Regions from separate parts of the Homo sapiens genome. Here regions 2, 3 and 4 are each linked to region 1. The links come from fine-mapping of genetic effects on plasma protein levels. Region 1 holds a variant in brackets. A gene starts in each other region. All regions are shown on their reverse strands.

Region 1 (4,000 bases):
CTCCGCCCCCCGGGTTCACACCATTCTCCTGCCTCAGCCTCCCGAGTAGCTGGGACTACAGGCGCCCGCCACCACGCCCAGCTAATTTTTTTCGTATGTTTAGTAGAGATGAGGTTTCACTGTGTTAGCCAGGATGGTCTCGATCTCCTGACCTCATGATCCACCCACCTCGGCCTGGTACTCCCCCAGTTCTGACAACCCAAACTGTCTTCTGATGTGGCCAGACATCCCCAGAGGGGGTTGGGGAAGGATGCAAGACTAGCAAGTGAGCCGGCACAGACCCAATGCCTACTCCAGAGCCTGCAGAACAAACACTCCTGCTTCGGCTTCTCCATCCCCCTGGCATGGCTCAGAAATCAGCCAATGCACATATTCACTGAACTCAGCCAAATCTGAACACTGCCAGCAGCTTTTGAACAAAGCTATGGGCTGAAAAGGACAGAGTAGGACCCAGAGGGCTTGAAACTCTCGACCAGGAAGGAAAGCCAGAACCGTGCACTGGGGAGCCAGAGAGCATCACTACGGTGCTGCTGGGTGCACTCCTGCTGAGTTCTGGGGAAGATCAAATAACCACATAAAGCCACCAGCATAACAAGGGGTTGGGGTCCTGCTGATGCCCAACCATGCTGTGGCAATGTCGGAAATCCAAAATATGCTTTGGTCACTCAGTAGCTGGGCACTCCAGTGGCTCCGTGGACCACTATCCTGGACCCCAAACTACAGAGAATGAGAAGAGCCGCCCTGCAGTGAACCAAGACATGCCCTGTTCTGACAGAGGAGCAGAGAGTGACCTGGGTGCAAGCTCGCTGGCCGTGCTCTTTGGGCAAGTATGACTCTCAAGTTCCCCACAGCCACACAGGATGAATAATCACATCTCCCCTTGGTTGTGGGGACCCTATAAGATAACGCACAGGAGCACGTAGTCTGTAATGGGAGGCTCCTAATGCGAGTCCCTCTGCCACGTGGCTCTGCTGGTGCTACATACAGGATTGCATCAAAGGTTCCGCTGCTGCTCTTGTGAGTTCAAAAATTACCCTAAAAGGCTAGTATTTTACAGCCTAAACTTCCTCCTGTGCATCACAAAGTGGCAAAACAAAACAAAGCACAAATCTAGGTTAGACCAGGCTGACAGATTTTTGTTGTTGTTTACAACACATGTGATTGTTGGCCGGGCACCATGGCTCACGCCTGTAATCTCAGCACTTTGGGAGGCCAAGGCGGGCGGATCACCTGAGGTCAGGAGTTGGAGACCAGCCTGGCCAATATGATGAAACCCTGTCTCTACTAAAAATACAAAAATTAGCTTGGCGTGACGGCAGGCACCTGTAATCCCAGCTACTCGGGAGGTTGAGGCAGGAGAATTGCCTGAACCTGTGAGGTGGAGGTTGCAGTGAGCCGAGATTGCACCACTGCACTCCAGCCTGGGCGACAGAGCCAGACTCCATCTCAAAAAAAAAAAAAAAGAAAAGAAAAAAATATATATATATGACTGTTATAGTTCCCCCTAAGAGTAAAGCTCCACCTTCCAGGGGTAACAGATTCTTCAGTGTCATATACTTTATTTACCTTTTTTTTTTTTTTCTTTTTGAGATAGAGTCTCGCTCTGTCACCCAGGATGGAGTGCAGTGGTGCGATCTTGGCTCACTGCAACTTCCGCCTCCCAAGTTCAAGCAATTCTCCTGCCTCAGCCTCCCGAGCAGCTGGGATTACAGGTGCACACCACCATGCCCAGCTAATTTTTGTATTTTTAGGAGAGACAGAGTTTCACACTGTTGGCCAGGCTGGTCTCGAACTCCTGACCTCAAGTGATCTGCCTGCTTCAGGCTCCCAAAGTGCTGGGATTACAGACATGAGCCACCGCGCCTGGCCAACATCATATAGTTTAACTAGATCACTGAGAAGCTATCTGATGCTTAAGGTGCAGATTAAGTGAACCAGCCAGTTTACCTTACAGATAGCCAAATAATTAATTACACATGCAGTAAGTTTTGCTGCCCGGGTAGCCTGGAAATAGGGCCAGCTGTGGCTACTCTGTCTGAAAGGCAGTGAGGCATGGGGCTCCACCATGGGACAGACCCTGAGGTGCC[C/T]GACACCAGTGCCCTGCAGGCAGGAGATGTGTGAGCACACTTCAGAGGCCCCCAGGACTCAGCGCTAGCAGAGAAAGCCGACTTACCACGCCTCTGAAGGAAGGAGGGATAAGGCCACTGTAGAAGGGGATGAAGCAGGAACATACCAAGGCCTGTGAAAGCAAAGGAGAGAGAAGTTATAGGCGAGAGCACCCTTTTAATTTTCCTGATCCTTCATAAGCTTTCTCCAAGTGAGCAGGGCAACAAACTTGAAAATGCCCTTTGCACAGAGTAGGTTAATCCATGGGTCAAAAGAACGGGGAACTAACATACACCCTCGGACTTCAGGCCCATGGGTCTCATCTATTGCATAATCCCCTTAACAACCCTGTCAGTGAACTTCAACTTCCTCTCCTTGCTCCCCATGAGAGTCACACTGGGTCACCACAGACAGGACCAAGGGTTGTTGGCTCATGGACTGAAAGGGGCTAGATCGGTGCTGTTCAAATGCCGGTATTCATTAGCATCACCGGAGAGCCTGTGGAACCAGAGATTCTGCGTCCCTCCCCAGAATTCCCATGCAGCAGGTCAGAGGTGGGACCTGAGGGTCTGCCATTCCAATAAGCTCAAAGGAGCTGCTGCTCTGCTGGTCCCAGGATCACACTTTGCGAAGCACTGTGCTACAGAGCAGTCAGCAGGCACCACGGTGATTCACTGGGAGAACGGACCCATGTGGGAACAGACAAGTGCTGGCTGTTTAGAGAAAGCTTCCGCAAACAAGGTTAAACAGAGGATGCAACTGGCTGCAGGTTAGACGCGCCAGGCTGCTGTCTTGCACAGATCTGTCAAGTAAATGGAGTCCTTCCTCCAAGGAGCGCTTATGAAAGCATCAGCTGAATTTAATGGTGTTTTGGTATTACAAATTATCTTCTCTCTGCTAGACCCTGAGGATACAGGCAAATAAGGCACGTTCCCACCCTTGTAGGGTTTCCAGTGAGAAGGCATCTTCATTATGGAAGATGCATAGAGGAAGCTCGGGAGAGGCACACCTGCAGGACAGGTTCCTTGGACTGGACGGTCATGAGCCAAGTGTTGAAGGAAAGGGAGGAATTATTTGAAATTGTAACTGCCAGGCAGAGGTGGGCAGATTACTTGGGTGCAGGAGTTTGGGACCAGCCTGGGCAACAGGGCAAAACCCCGTCTCTACAAAAAGTACAAACATTAGCAAGGTGTGATGGCCTGTGCCTGTAGTCCCAGCTCCTCGGGAGGTTGAGATTGCGCCACTGCACTCCAGCCTGGGAGACAGAGCAAGACTCTGTACCCCGCCCCCCCACCCAAAAAAAAGAGATAAAAAGTGAAGAAAAGAAACTGCCCTGGAACATTCAGGGTTTACAAACATGGACCAAATCACTGGAGGTGTACAGAGTTTATGTCACTCTGGCACAGGGGGCCTACAACTGCCTGTGTTGCTTCCAAAACAAAACAGTCTTTCTTTTTTTTTTTTTTCCAGACAGCATCTCACTGTCACCCGGGCTGGAGTACAGTGGCATGATCATGACTTACTGCAACCTCCACCTCCCAGGCTCAAGCAATTCTCCTGCCTCAGCCTCCCTAGTAGCTGGGACTATGGGCCCACAACACCATGCCTAGCTAATTTTTCTGTAATTTTTGTAGAGACTGGGTTTCATCATGTTGGTCTCGAGCTCCTGGGCTCAAGCAACCCACCCGCTTCGGCCTCCCAAAGTGCCGGGATGACAGGCATGAGCCACCACACCCATCCCAAAACAGCTTTTCTAACTTGACAACGTCCAGATAAGCAAACTGCTTACATCCACGACTTCGTCTTTGGACCGAAAGTCAGACACCAGAACGTTTTCCCCATCAGACACTCTGGTAAGAGAGATGCCTATTTTGCCGGAGATGAGCTGGTGGAC
Region 2 (4,174 bases), not on the chromosome of region 1:
TGAAGTACTGAGTTGGAAATCACTCTGCAAGCTGGGTAGAGCTGGACCACTTTCCCTTACTCATAATACCATCTGGCATTTGCAACAGTAAACACTAACAGCCTCACTTTAATTCAGGACCTTGGGTGGAGGCTCCAAAGAGTGGAATGAGCACTAGAATGGGGAGTCTGAACATCTGAGTCCTTGTCGTGGCTCTGTTAACTAACAAAACCTATCACCTTGGGTATGGTACTTTCTTCAACTGAGGAGATGGAGAGTCAGCTGGGACAAGGGTTCTATAGAGGGGCTTAGAGCGGCTTAAAGGGAGTCCTTGAGCAGTCTGAAATTGTTGCCAAACTCAGTCTATTTGCATTCTGTGGAGGGGACACCACAGATTCTTAAATAGTCAAGAACTGCTAACCTGGATAAGCTTCTGAATTACTGCAGTTTACATACTGACGCATGTACTTTGAGGGAAAAGAGGTACAGGGGAGCAGCAGAGATGGCTGGCACTCATCCCACATACCCACTGCCATCCCAGGCCCATCTGAGAGGGACTTTGTCAAGGGAGGCTTGGCATGACTAGGCTGCTGACTCAGCCACTTCCTAAACTTTGGTGCCACAAGCCAGGGAGCAAAAGGCAGGGTCTAAGGCAGAGGACACACATACAGAATGCTCCTAAAGGGACAGAGGCACGGGATTGGAAAGAAAAACTGCTGGAAAGTGAACCAGACAGGGTCTTAGGGAGAGAAGGATCCTTACAGACAAGGGAGCTATCAAGATCCACAAGTCTGGCACAGGCAAGGGGAACAGCAGGGGTTCTGGAGATGGAGGCCTAGACTGGAAGGAAAGGAGAAGGAGCTGGCACTTCCTGAGCACGTACTAAGTGCTGAGTACTCTTGTGATCATCATAATCCTGCAAGGGAGGTTTATCAGTCCCAAGCAAGGGAGTTAAATACAAGTTCTGCTGTTTCTAAGTGTCCTCTGGCCCCCCTTTCTCTGCTCTGCACGGTCTGCCCCGATAATTCAGACAGCCTTAGCATTTCCTTTGGAAAGGTCAATGACAAGAGGCTGGACTATGAATCTGCAGCTGGCAAAGGAGAGAGAAAGCTTCATTCAAACAGTTTGCAACCGTCCTGGGCACCGGCCACGTGCCAGCCACGGGGCTAGGTTCCGGGAGGCACACGACTAGATCCCTGCCCTTCGCAACAGCCACTACCTGCTGCCCCCACACCCCGAGGGGAACCAGCTGGGATCTGGGCAGCCAGGGCGCTTAAGGTGCGGGGCCGGCGCCAGGCTGGAAGTGGGAAGCCAGGACTATGGCTGGGCTCAGAGGAGAGTGAGGCAGGATCGGTATGCTTCCCACCCTCCTTCCCAGCTTACCAGGCGCAAGTCCCCCGGTCCGTGCACCACCAGGGAAAGGTTGTTGGGCTTGGCCGCCGCCGCCATGGAGCTCTTTTGGCTCTGGAGTGCGGCCTGGAAGGCGCGGGACGTTTGGTCGCTCTGGTGGCGCTACCCAGCCGAGGGTCCAGGGCACTGGATGGAAGGTGGGGCCTGGGAGAAGCGCCGCACGCAGGGGCGGGACTAGGCTTCCTCCTTTGTGCCAGCCTGGGCGGCGCTAGCGTGGAGGGGCGGGGCTTCCCAGCCTCCTCCAGACCCGGAGGCGGGGCGGGGCTTCGGGAGGGGGCTGGGAGCGAGAAGCCCGGGTGCTGGCTCCATCTGCAGCGCGCTGTTTTTTTTGTTTGTTTGTTTGTTTGTCGCCGAGGCTGGAGTACAGTGGTGCGATCCCGGCTCACTGCAAGCTCTGCCTCCCGGGTTCAAGCCATTCTCCTGCCTCAGCCTCCCGAATAGCTGGGACTACAGGCGCCCACCACCACGTATTTTTGTTTAGTAGAGACGGGGTTTCACCGTGTTAGCCAGGATGGTCTCGATATCCTGACCTCGTGATCCACCCGCCTCCGCCTCCCAAAGTGCTGGGATTACAGGCGTGAGCCACCGCGCCGGCCCTGCAGCGCGCTGTTTTTGCCGCCTCACATGCAAGCACACACGGCTGCCTTGAAAACCGCCTGCAGAGGCAGTAGGCACCAGACCAGCGCTCTCAAACGTTAGCTGCAGAAGAATTGGGGTGGGGAATGTGAGGCGCTGTTGAGAATGCACATTCTCAGGACCAGCACAGAGATTCTGATACAGTAGGTCTAGGTCTGAGGTGCTGCCTGAGGGTCCATATTCCTAGCAACGAGAATGCTGAGGCTGTGGGTGGAGCACGGTGTGCACTTTGCGAGACAGGTGCTACCATGACGCAGCGTCCACGTCGGCCCTTTGTCTCCAGCCCCCAGGAAAGGGCCTGGCACGAGTAGGAGTAAATGAATTCGTGCATCATTACATGGGCCTGGTGCTTAAGTATAAAAAAGACATGAGGCCGGGCGCAGTGGCTCTTGCCTGTAATCCCAGCACTTTGGGAAGCCGAGGCAGGTGGATCACCTGAGGTCAGGAGTTCGAGACCAGCCTGACCAATATGGTGAAAACCCCGTCTCTACTAAAAATACAAAAATTAGCCGGGCATGGTGGCATGCGCCTTAATCTCAGCTACTCGGGAGGCTGAGACAGGAGAATAGCTTGAACCTGGGAAGCAGAGGTTGCAGTGAGCTGAGATCATGCCATTCAACACCAGCCTGGGCAACAAGAGTGAAAATCTGTCTTTAAAAAAAAAAAAGCCATGAAATGGAATTTGTGAACCTCTTTCTCTCAACTGGATCTGCTGCTTCTATTCAAAGCAGAGTTTCTGCCCAAACTCTTCCTTCAAGCCTCTCAGCCCTCTGAGAAACAGTGAGGTTTTACTCTCTGAGGAGAGAGGCGCTTCTAGATAGGCCTAAGTCTATAAGGCCCCTCCCTCCTTTGAGGATAATGCTCAGGATTTCATTCCCTTACAGTCCCCCCTCCCCAATATGTAACCGCCCAATGGATTCACCTTGCCTGCTGCCTAGACAAAACTAATTTATCAAGACAGGGGAACTGCAATAGGGAAAGAGTTCATGCAGAACCAGCTATGCAGGAGACTGGAATTTCATTATTGCTCAAATCCGGCTCCCCAAGCATTCGAGCATACGGGGACTCAGAGTTTTTAAGGATAGTTTGATGGGTGGGGAAAGGCCAGTGAGTCAGGAGTGCTGATTGTTTGGGTCAGAGATGAAATCATAGGGGATCTAAGCTGTCTTCTTGGACTGAGTCAGTTTCTGGGCGAGGGCCACAAGGTCAGATAAGTGAGTTTATCAATCTGGTTGGTGCTACGCCTTGAGGGACCGGTGCCAGTATAGGCTGTATTTGTTCCTTGCTGAGGGCCCTGGTTCCTCTGGCTAAGATTAGGCCTAGATATTTGACTTGTTGTAGGCAGAGCTGGGCTTTCAGTTTAGACACCTTGCCCGCTTGATTACCTAGAAAGTTCAAGAGATCTAGAGTAGCCTGCTGGCATGAGGCTTCCAAATTGGTAGCCAAAAGTAAATCATCCAGATTCCGTTCCAAGATGGCCAAATAGGAACAGCTCCGGTCTGCAGCTCCCAGTGTGATCGATGCAGAAGACGGTGATTTCTGCATTTCCAACTGAGGTACCTGGTTCATCTCATTGGGACTGGTTGGACAGTGGCTGCAGCCCATGGAGGGTGAGCCGAAGCAGGGAGGGGCATTGCCTCACCCGGGAAGCGCAAGCGGTTGGGGGATTTCCCTTTCCTAGCCAAGGAAAGCTGTGACAGACTGTACCTGGAAAATCAGGACACTCTCACCCAAATACTGCACTTTTCCAACGGTCTTAGCAAATGGCACACCAGGAGATTAAATCCTGTGCCTGGCTCAGTGGGTCCCACGCCCACAGAGCCTTGCTCACTACTAGCACAGCAGTCTGAGGCAGCAGCCTGGCAGGGGAGGGGCGTCCGCCATTGCTGAGGCTTGAGTAGGTAAACAAAGCAGCCGGGAAGGTTGAACTGGGCAGAGCCCACCGCAGCTCTGCAAGGTCTGCTGCCTCTGTAGACCTCACCTCTGGGGGCAGGGCATAGGTGAACAAAAGACAGCAGAAACTTCTGCAGACTTAAACGTCCCTGTCTGACAGCTCTGAAGAGAGCAGTGGCTCTCCCAGTACAGTGTTTGAGCTCTGAGAATGGACAGACTGCCTCCTCAAGTGGGTCCCTGGCCCCCATGTAGCCTA
Region 3 (4,212 bases), not on the chromosome of region 1:
ACATTAACACATTAGAGAGGCTGCTATGGGCGGTGGTGGGGGGCGGGGAATAAAAGTGGAGCACAAGAATAAAAGTTAATAGAAAAATGTGAAATGTGAGAGGACTTTTCTAATCTGACTCTAAGACTTATTATAAAGCTATAATAATCAAGACAAGGTAGTGTTCTGTCATGACAGACAAACAGATCAATGGAACAGAAGAAAGGGCTCAGAAATAAACCCACATGTATACAGTCAATTGATATTTTACAAAGGTGCAAAGACAACTCAGTGGAGAAAGGAATAACTGAGTCGCCATGTGCAAAAGTGCATCTGGATCTATAACTTGAAGCATATAAAAATATTTACTCAAAGTGGATCACAGACTAAATGTAAAACCAAAAGCTATAAAACATAGGAGAAAACTTTTGATCTTGGGTTAGGCCAAGATTTCTATGTGTACAACATCAAAATAGAAATCCATAAAAGAAACATTTGATATATTGGATTTCATCAAAATTAAGAACGTTTGCTCTTTGAAAGGCACCATAAGATAATGCAAAGAAAATATTTGCAAATCACTGCCTGATCATGTCCTTATATCCAGAATAAAACACCCTCAAAACTCGATAAGAAGACAACCCAATTTCTTTTTTAATGGGCAGGAAATTCAAACATGCTATTCAATAAAAAAAACTTATCCTTAGCAAATAAGTACATGAAAAGACATTCAATACAATTACTAATCAAGGAAACTCAAAACCACAATGAGATACTGCTACACACCAATTAAAATTTAAAAGGCTGACTATATCAAGTGTTGGTGAGGACAGAGAACTGCAACCTTCATACACTGCTGCTAGGAATATAAAATGATACAACCATTTTGCAAAACAGTATGGCAGTTTCCTAATAAGTTATAAAAGTCCACCTACCACATGACCCAGGCATTCCATTCCTAAGTGTTTACTCAAGGAAAATTAAAACATACGTACTTTCGAAGATTTGTGCACCATATTCGCAGCAGCTTTATTTGTAATAGCCAAAAGGTAAACAACGCAAATGTCCAATAGTGAATCGCTAAACAAATTGTAGTCTATCTGTACAATGCAATACTATAAAATAAATTTTACTTAGCCATAAAAGGAAGAAACCATTGATATAGGCAACAACATGGCTGAACCCCAAAACAGTTATCCTGCCTAGTATATACTCTATGGTCCATTTACATAAAATTCTAGAAAATGCAAACTAATTTATAGTGACCTAAAGTACATCAGTGCTTGCCTGGCCAGGTGGTTTCGGGAGGAAGGGGTTACCAAAGGGCAAGGGAAAACTTGCAGGGATGATGATATGTTCATAATGTTGATCTCGGTGATGGTCTCACGAGGGAAACATTAAAATTTATCAAATTGTACACGTTGAATATGTGCAATTTATTGCATGTCAATTATATCCAAATAAGAGATTTTTATAAAGAAAAAAATAGGTATTCTGGCGCCCAGGGCCACCCAGCTGTAAGCGGCGGGGTGGGATTCCAACCCAGAAGCGGGCATTTGGAGCCCTCATGCTTCACCCTAGCTCCCTGAAACAAGCACGGAGGATGGCTCTGAGCAGCGAGGAAAGTGCTGGAAGCAAGCAGGCCGAGCGCGTCCCTGGCTGGGGACGTTAATCATTACCGGAGGGCGGCCCGAGCGCGGCCCCGCCCCGGGACGGCAGCCTGCGCGCCCGGCCGCCGCCTGCCCTCTCCGCTGGCCACCTGCTGCCGCCCGCGCCATGGTGAGTCCAGGGGTGCGCGGCCGCGATCGGGGCAGCGGGGCCGGGGCAGCCGCGGGCGAGGTGGGAGCGGGAAGGGGCGGGGGAAAGTCTTTTCGAGTCCCCTGCGGAGCCGCCGGGGTCCGAAAGTGGGGTCTCTGCCCGGCTCTCTGTCGCTGGCGGCGGGGAGGGGAAGCTGAAGCCCTGAGAGGGGCGGTGGCGGGTTCGAATCCCACCCAGTTGGGAGGCCAGGCCTGCCCTGACCCCGGCCAGTGCTTGTTCCGGGACCCTTCCGGGGGCGGGGCCTACGACCTTCCTGGGCCGGGGAAGACAGTCGTGGAGGAGTCCACGGATCTCGTCCCCTTGGTGGCCCGATTCTGCTTTATACTGGGGTGGGAGCGAGAGGGAGGCTGAGTTTGCGCGCTCGTGTGCGTGCCTGTCCGCTGCCCCTTCCCGCTGGCACTCTGGGTACGGGGTCTGCCTGGGACTCACGCTCTGCGCCGGTATGCTGGCCCCAGAGCCACTCCCCGCGCCGGCTTGAGGCCCGTGCCAGGCCACGGGGGCTTGGTGGCGCTGGAGCAGCCCTCCTCCCGTGAGCTTCCCCCACCCACCCCCGGGGCGGGGGCGGGGGCGGGGCCCTTGCTCTGCTGTAAGCTCGCGAGCTTCATCAGACCATTTCTGGTCCACAGGCCTTCGGAGCAGGCAAGACTGGGAGGGCCTTTTGATAGGAGAGGGACTTGGGGGAGGGAGGATGAGTGGGGCTGTTTGTGAGGGGCGCTGAGGTCCCAGAGATGCAGGCTTGGGAAATCGGTAACCACTCCCCACACCTCGCCAGAGGAGGCAAACGGGGCAGCGTCCCCCTCTCTGTCTCCAGAGCCGGCACCTGGAAGGTTTGTCAGTTCAGCCGCAGGCTGTGCGACCTGGGGGGTTCCAGAAGGCTCTACCGAGAAAGGGAAGCCTCCTAAGAGCTCACCTGGACTCACCCACCCCTTTAAGAGCCAAGGAAGTAAACAGTGGGCTCTGATGCTTTGGCTGACTTCTGGTTGTCTAGATACACGGACCAGGCGGTCAGCCACGGGGAGAAGGCCAGCTCTGGAGTAGAGACCTACCTACTGGGCAGATGATGCAAATCGCTGCTGCCATTCAATCCCTATAGTCATCCAGAGCCGAGGGGAAGAGAGGGGCCAAGCTACATCAGTCCAGAGAGAGCTCACGTTTTCAGGAGGGAAAACAGCAGGGAAAAAAGACGGACTTAGGAAAGCACTGCGATGCTTCAGCTACCCCAAATGCTACCAGGCCCATCACAAGCCTGCTTGCCTTAGGAAGTTTTTTTTTTGTAATGCAGATGACATTTGCTTTATAGCAGTGGAGTTTCCTAAAGTGTCCCATTGGCACCTCATGATGATCTGTGGAGGTGGAGGTTCTGCCAAGAGAGGTACAGCCACCTGGCTGGTAAATGGTGAAAGCGGGTCTCAAAACTCCTGCCAATCAACACATGGTGTCCAGTCTGCAGGCTGCCTCATAAAAGCTAAATCAACCTCCCTCACATTCCCTCCCCACCCCTAAGGGTATCTTTTCAATTCAGCACTCTATTTCTGCCCTGGGGTGGTGCTACTCTAGAAGCCTAGGTTCTGGGATCTGTTAAGCTCCTAGACCTGGATCCTCCTAGGATGAAACTGACCCTTGCTTCCTTGCTTTCTCTGAGGTTCCACTCATGGCCTGAATTGTGCCAATTTGGGCTGCCTTGAGGGCACTTCGCACATTAGGTAAATAGGATGGGGCACTAGGTTTGCCAGCTGCCTTTGGCCAAGTTCCTTCCACTTTGGCCTGAGCTTCCCAACCAGCCAGAAAAGCAGACGGAAAACCAGAGAAACCTAGCCCTGGCGGCTCAGGACCAGAGGCTGCCTGGGAGCATGACTGAGGACCTACTAGAGGTAGTGCCAACGGCGGTCAGCTGCAGTGTGGCTAAGAATGGGATGGACACTTATTTTAAATGTAGCTCCTTCGTCCAGCCCCAGCAATGCTGACACACAGACAACACTGCGCCATCACTGGCTAGGGGTGGGCGGGAAAGAACAGCAGACAAGTCGTTTCCCCTCTCTAGGCCTGTTTCCTCTTCAATACACGTGAAAGTTACGGTAGGGACGTGGGGTGCATATGATGAAGTACATAATAGGAAAAGGAAGGGGGGAGAGTCATGGGTACTCTTCCTGAGAGGTTGTGGAGTAACATATTTGCATCTGGGATTTATTTTGCTTTTACGCCCTCACTGATGTAATAATCTCATGGAGGGAAGGTCCGTAAGGCTTTGAGGGCAGGGTGGGGGAAGAGTGCTTCTCTGTCCCCGTCATATGAATTACATTGCTTTTGTGATTTCCCTTGTGTGTGTGTGGAGTGTTAAAACCCAAGACCTGAGGGCCTATCGGCAGACGAGCCTGGACCCCACCTCCTGGGCAGGGTGCCACCCTTGAGGCCTCC
Region 4 (4,212 bases), not on the chromosome of region 1:
GGTAGGTGGTCTGAGCAGGGTGAGGAAGTGCCCAGGCCCACCTCCCTTCCCCGCTTAGGGCCCCAGGCTCACCTCTACTTTCTGACAGCCCAGGCCCAGCTGGCGGGCTGTCTCCTCAAAGAAAGCCACAGCAGCTCCTGGAGGCACAGAGTGTCTTGGGGCTGCTTCTGCCTACCCACAGCTTCCCACCAGCCCAGGCAGCCCGGAGAGTGGAGCATACCCAGAAATGGGCTGCTGCCTCCCCGACACACTCCATATCCCTCAGAGATGCTTGCATTTCCATCCCCAAGAAAGAAGATATTTTTGGCTACTCAGTGACCCTTTCTGGAAGTCCAGGGGGATGTCTGGACACAGGGTTGGAGGAAGGTGTTATCTTCCTTAAATATGGGAAACTATGGCACAGAGACATGAAGAGATTCACCCACCATCTCTCAGCTGATTAATCACAGAGGAGGAATTTGGACCCATGTACACAATTCCCAGCCACTAAGTTTTTTTTTTTTCTTTTCCTTTTTTTTTTTTTTTTTTTGAGACAGGGTCTCACTCTGTCACCAAGGCAGGAGTGAAGTGGTGCGATCTCGGCTCACTGCAGCCTCAACCTCCCAGGCTCAAGCGATCCTCCCACCTCAACCTCTGGAGTAGCTGGGACTACAGGTGTGCCACCATTCCTGACTAATTTTTGTATTTTTTCTGTAGAGACAGAGTCTTGCCATGTTGCTCAAGCTAGTCTTGAACTCCTGGGCCCAAGCAATCTGCCAGCCTCAACCTCCTGAAGTGCTGGGATAACAGGCAGGAGCCACCTCCCAGGCCCTAGCCACCAAGCTTGACTCCCTAAGGGCTGTGGCCTTTGTCCAGCCCCAGTGGGCTTCTGGAGGGCCTCTCCTTTCCCTGTGGCTGCCTCAGGCTTCCCCCACCACTCCTGCCCTGGAGAGTGAGGTGAAGTTTTTCTTTAACCAGCTGCCAGGAGTAACCTTGGTCAGCAGCAGAGTCTCTGGGGAAAGGGTTCCTCCCTAACCTGGAGGGGCTGCCTCAGTCTATTTACTTGGGGAATGGCTGGAGGGGTTGGGGAGCCATTTGGGACAGCAGAGTGGGGCTCAGCTGGGTGACAGGGGTTGGAGGCTGGTTTAGAGCACAGTCCCCGTCCCTTAGGCCCCGTCACAGGCTCTGGAACCACCGTCTTCTCACCATAGTCAGGCTTGGGCTGGACAGTGCGGATACGCAGGTACTGGCGGAAGAGCGTCACCGATGGGTGCTCCTCCTCGGGACCCTTGCTGGTCATGGCGCTGCGCGTGGTGAGCTGGGGGCAAAGTGAATGGCTAACTACCCCTCCAAGACCCTGGAAATGGTGAGCTCCTGCACACAGCCTGTCCCCACGGCGGCTCCCGGACTTCCCACAGGGGTAGGATACCGTGTTTCGGAGCCCCCATTAAGGAGCACCCATTCTGTTTCAGGCGCTGGGCTGTCTGCTTCCAGCACATTTCCTTATTTAATCCCCAAAAGAGCCCCATGAAGTTTGTGCTCAGAATGCCCACTTTACAGAGGAGAAAGCTGAGAGGCTCAGAGAGGTTCAAGGACAGCTCATAGAGTAGCTGAGCAAGGTTTGAACCCAGACTTGTACTCCCCCCGCCCTCCTAAAAAAAAAAAAAGGCAAAAACAAAAACAAAAAACAAACAAGAAAAACCCCAACGCCTCCCAGTTGCCCGGCTTTCAAGCCACGGAGCCCCAGTCCCTCTATCCCTCCCCAGGGCCCCCACCTCACTCTCCTGTCGCTGGGCTCACGCTCGCCTCTCAGCGCCCTTCCCTGACTGTGGCCTGGACTTAGGGTCCAGCGAGGTCGCCTGCGAGGTCGCAGGCTCAGGACCGCCCCGGTCCGCCCACCACGTGGCCGAGGCCGGATGTCGGGGCGGAGACCGAAGACCGTCAGTGAGGGCCGTCCCGGCGCCAGCGGCCGCGTCGGCGCGGATGTCCCCGCCCGCCTCTGGTTCGGGCCTCAGCGAGATTACTGGAGGATTAGATCCGGATCCCGTCCCCGGGCAGCGGCCGCCGCGGCCAGCGCCGCCCCGCGAGTTGCGAGCTCCGGGCTGGCCCTGCTCTGACAGGCTCGCCCCGCCCCACACGACACGCCTGCCACTCCTGCCCCCAGGTATGCGCCGGGAGCTCAGGACGGTCCCGTCCCCTAAGGGCGCCTCCTCCTTCAGCCCCCGGATAGGGCGGGAGGAAAGGGGGCCGCCCCGAGGCTCTCAAGATGCAGAGCTGCAAAGCCCTGGGCCTGCGCCCTCGCCCTCCTCGGCAAGTCTCCAACGGCTCCCCACTGCAGGCCTCAGCCCCTCGGGGAGGTCCTCCCTGACGCCTCAGCTCCACTTGTACTGAAGTTATTGGCCAATGTCTGTCTGCCCACACTGAACTCCAGGAGGCTGTGAGCTCCACTTCCTGCAAGGTTCTGCCCGGGGCCGTGCCGAGCCCGGACAGTGCCTAGAATGGGAATGAATGCATGGACAAGAGCACGTGTGACGGTTTAAGCGTGCCACTGCGTGTGCAGTCTATCAGTGGATATGATTGTGTATGTGACAGTGTGAGATGGTGGGTGGGTGTGATGAAGTCACTGTGAATGGATGTAATTGTGACCCTGGATGGACAGTGTGAGGAAACTGGCTCTTCTGCAGCCACCAGAGGGGGAGGCTAAACAGGCACAGGTGTACCACTGGCCCCCTGCAGGCCACAGCTGCAGTTGCCCACTTGTGCCCCAGCTGCCCTTTGTACTCCCAGCCAGGTCTGCCCTCTGCTCCAGGGGCTGAGTCAGCTTGGGGAAGGGTGAGGGACAAAGACTTCAATCTCTAGGCCAAGGAGGCACGCTGTGGGAAGGGTTCTGTCCCACCTTTCCTGAGGTTTAAGTCTTGGCTGCTCACACATAACATGGGGGCAAATGGACTTTAACTCATAACAATGCTGGATAATTCTTTATTTAGTTATTTTTTTGATACAGAGTCTCACTCTGTCATGCGGGCAAATAGATTTTAACTCACAACAATGCTGGCTAATTATTTACCTATTTATTCATGCGGGCAAATAGACTTTAACTCATAACAATGCTGGCTAATTATTTAGCTATTTATTTTTTTGAGATGGAGTCTCACTCTGCTGCCCAGGCTGGAGTGCAGTGGCTCCTTCTCGGCTCGCTGAAAACTCCGCCTCCTGGGTTCAAGTGATTCTCCTGCCTCAGCCTCCAGAGTAGCTGGGATTACAGGTGCGTGCCACCACGCTGGGCTAATTTTTGTATTTTTAGTAGAGACAGGGTTTGTCATGTTGGCCAGGGTGGTCTTGAACTCCTGACCTCAGGTGATCCACCCGCCTTGGCCTCCCAAGGTGCTGGGATTACAGATGTGAGCCACAGTGCCCAGCTAATGCTGGTTTTTTTTTTTTTTTTTTTTTTTTTTTTTTTTTTTTTTTTTGAGACGGAGTCTCACTCGCTTTGTCACCCAGGGTGGAGTGCAGTGGTGTGATCTCGGTCTTGGCTCACTGCAAGCTCCGCCTCCCGGGTTCACACCATTCTCCTGCCTCAGCCTACTGAGTAGCTGGGACTAAAGTCACCCGCCACCACGCTCGGCTAATTTTTTGTATTTTTAGTAGAGACGGGTTTTCACCGTGTTAGTCAGGATGGTCTCGATCTCCTGACCTCGTGATCCGCCTGCCTCGGCCTCCCAAAGTGCTGGGATTACAGGTGTGAGCCACTGCGCCCGGCCAATGCTGGCTAATTGTTAAATCGCGTTCCCCATACCCTCTAGGTTCCTGACTTCCTTGGCTTGGCTGTCCAGACCCTGGATTTCCCACCAATCCCTGTGGTCATGCAGCAGCAGTAATACACCCCGCCTCCCACCAGCAATTCCCCAGCCTTATGTGGCCAAGTACTCAGTTATCCAGACTCATTCAGTCCTATAACCACCCTCCAACCTAGGTGTTGCCATCATACCCGTTTTACAGATAAGGAAACTCAGGCACAGAGTGGTGAGGCCAGGCACTTAGGAAGTGGCGCATTCTTAGCCTTCTCAGACTGCTGGACATCCCCTCCAGCTCCCAGGCCCAAAGTAGTCCCAGACTTGCCTCCCACTCCCGTCTTTCCCACAGCACACCAGGAAACGGAACCTGTCACTTCCCAGGCAGGACAAATATGCTTTTTTATTGTGTCTGTGAGATGAAATGAGGAGTCCTGGCTGG

Which allele goes with the higher level. Alleles are on the strand shown, and positions count from the first base shown. The strength of an association depends on the size of the effect and on how common the allele is.
In carriers of allele C in region 1, the plasma level of the protein whose gene starts at base 1,517 in region 2 tends to be lower than with T alone (weak association).
For the plasma level of the protein whose gene starts at base 1,724 in region 3, T is the high allele of the variant in region 1 and C is the other (weak association).
In carriers of allele C in region 1, the plasma level of the protein whose gene starts at base 1,809 in region 4 tends to be lower than with T alone (weak association).

What was found. A credible set is the group of variants that fine-mapping cannot tell apart. PIP is the chance, under the fine-mapping model, that this variant and not a neighbour inherited with it causes the effect. The UK Biobank Pharma Proteomics Project read protein levels with antibody pairs (Olink). The fine-mapping took linkage between variants from a reference panel, not from the people measured, so its PIPs are less certain.
Region 2: it holds the start of SORD, and the variant in region 1 is the best candidate, but not a certain one, in a credible set for the plasma level of the SORD protein (UK Biobank, PIP 0.64).
Region 3: it holds the start of PCBD1, and the variant in region 1 is the best candidate, but not a certain one, in a credible set for the plasma level of the PCBD1 protein (UK Biobank, PIP 0.59).
Region 4: ACY1 starts here. The variant in region 1 is the best candidate, but not a certain one, in a credible set for the plasma level of the ACY1 protein (UK Biobank, PIP 0.53).

What each region holds. Positions count from the first base shown.
Region 1 is chr22:43,927,063-43,931,062 of GRCh38, reverse strand. It overlaps PNPLA3 (patatin like domain 3, 1-acylglycerol-3-phosphate O-acyltransferase), which reads right to left. Exons shown (of 9, transcript NM_025225.3): 2 at 3,896-4,000; 3 at 2,174-2,239. Among named protein-coding and RNA genes, the nearest start is that of PNPLA3, 5.3 kb to the right of the region's middle. The variant C/T (reference allele first, on the strand shown) is at 2,088.
Region 2 is chr15:45,020,538-45,024,711 of GRCh38, reverse strand. SORD (sorbitol dehydrogenase) reads right to left here and starts at 1,517. Exons shown (of 9, transcript NM_003104.6): 1 at 1,363-1,517. The coding sequence starts at 1,428. RefSeq lists an enhancer at 148-798 and a silencer at 1,568-1,737.
Region 3 is chr10:70,886,077-70,890,288 of GRCh38, reverse strand. PCBD1 (pterin-4 alpha-carbinolamine dehydratase 1) reads left to right here and starts at 1,724. Exons shown (of 4, transcript NM_000281.4): 1 at 1,724-1,758. The coding sequence starts at 1,756. RefSeq lists silencers at 1,608-1,857, 2,188-2,467.
Region 4 is chr3:51,981,132-51,985,343 of GRCh38, reverse strand. ACY1 (aminoacylase 1) reads right to left here and starts at 1,809. Exons shown (of 15, transcript NM_000666.3): 1 at 1,755-1,809; 2 at 1,186-1,297; 3 at 73-137. The coding sequence starts at 1,279. ABHD14A-ACY1 (ABHD14A-ACY1 readthrough) reads right to left here. Exons shown (of 17, transcript NM_001316331.2): 4 at 1,186-1,297; 5 at 73-137. It overlaps ABHD14A (abhydrolase domain containing 14A), which reads right to left. Exons shown (of 5, transcript NM_015407.5): 5 at 4,148-4,212. RefSeq lists a silencer at 1,775-2,224 and an enhancer at 3,678-4,179.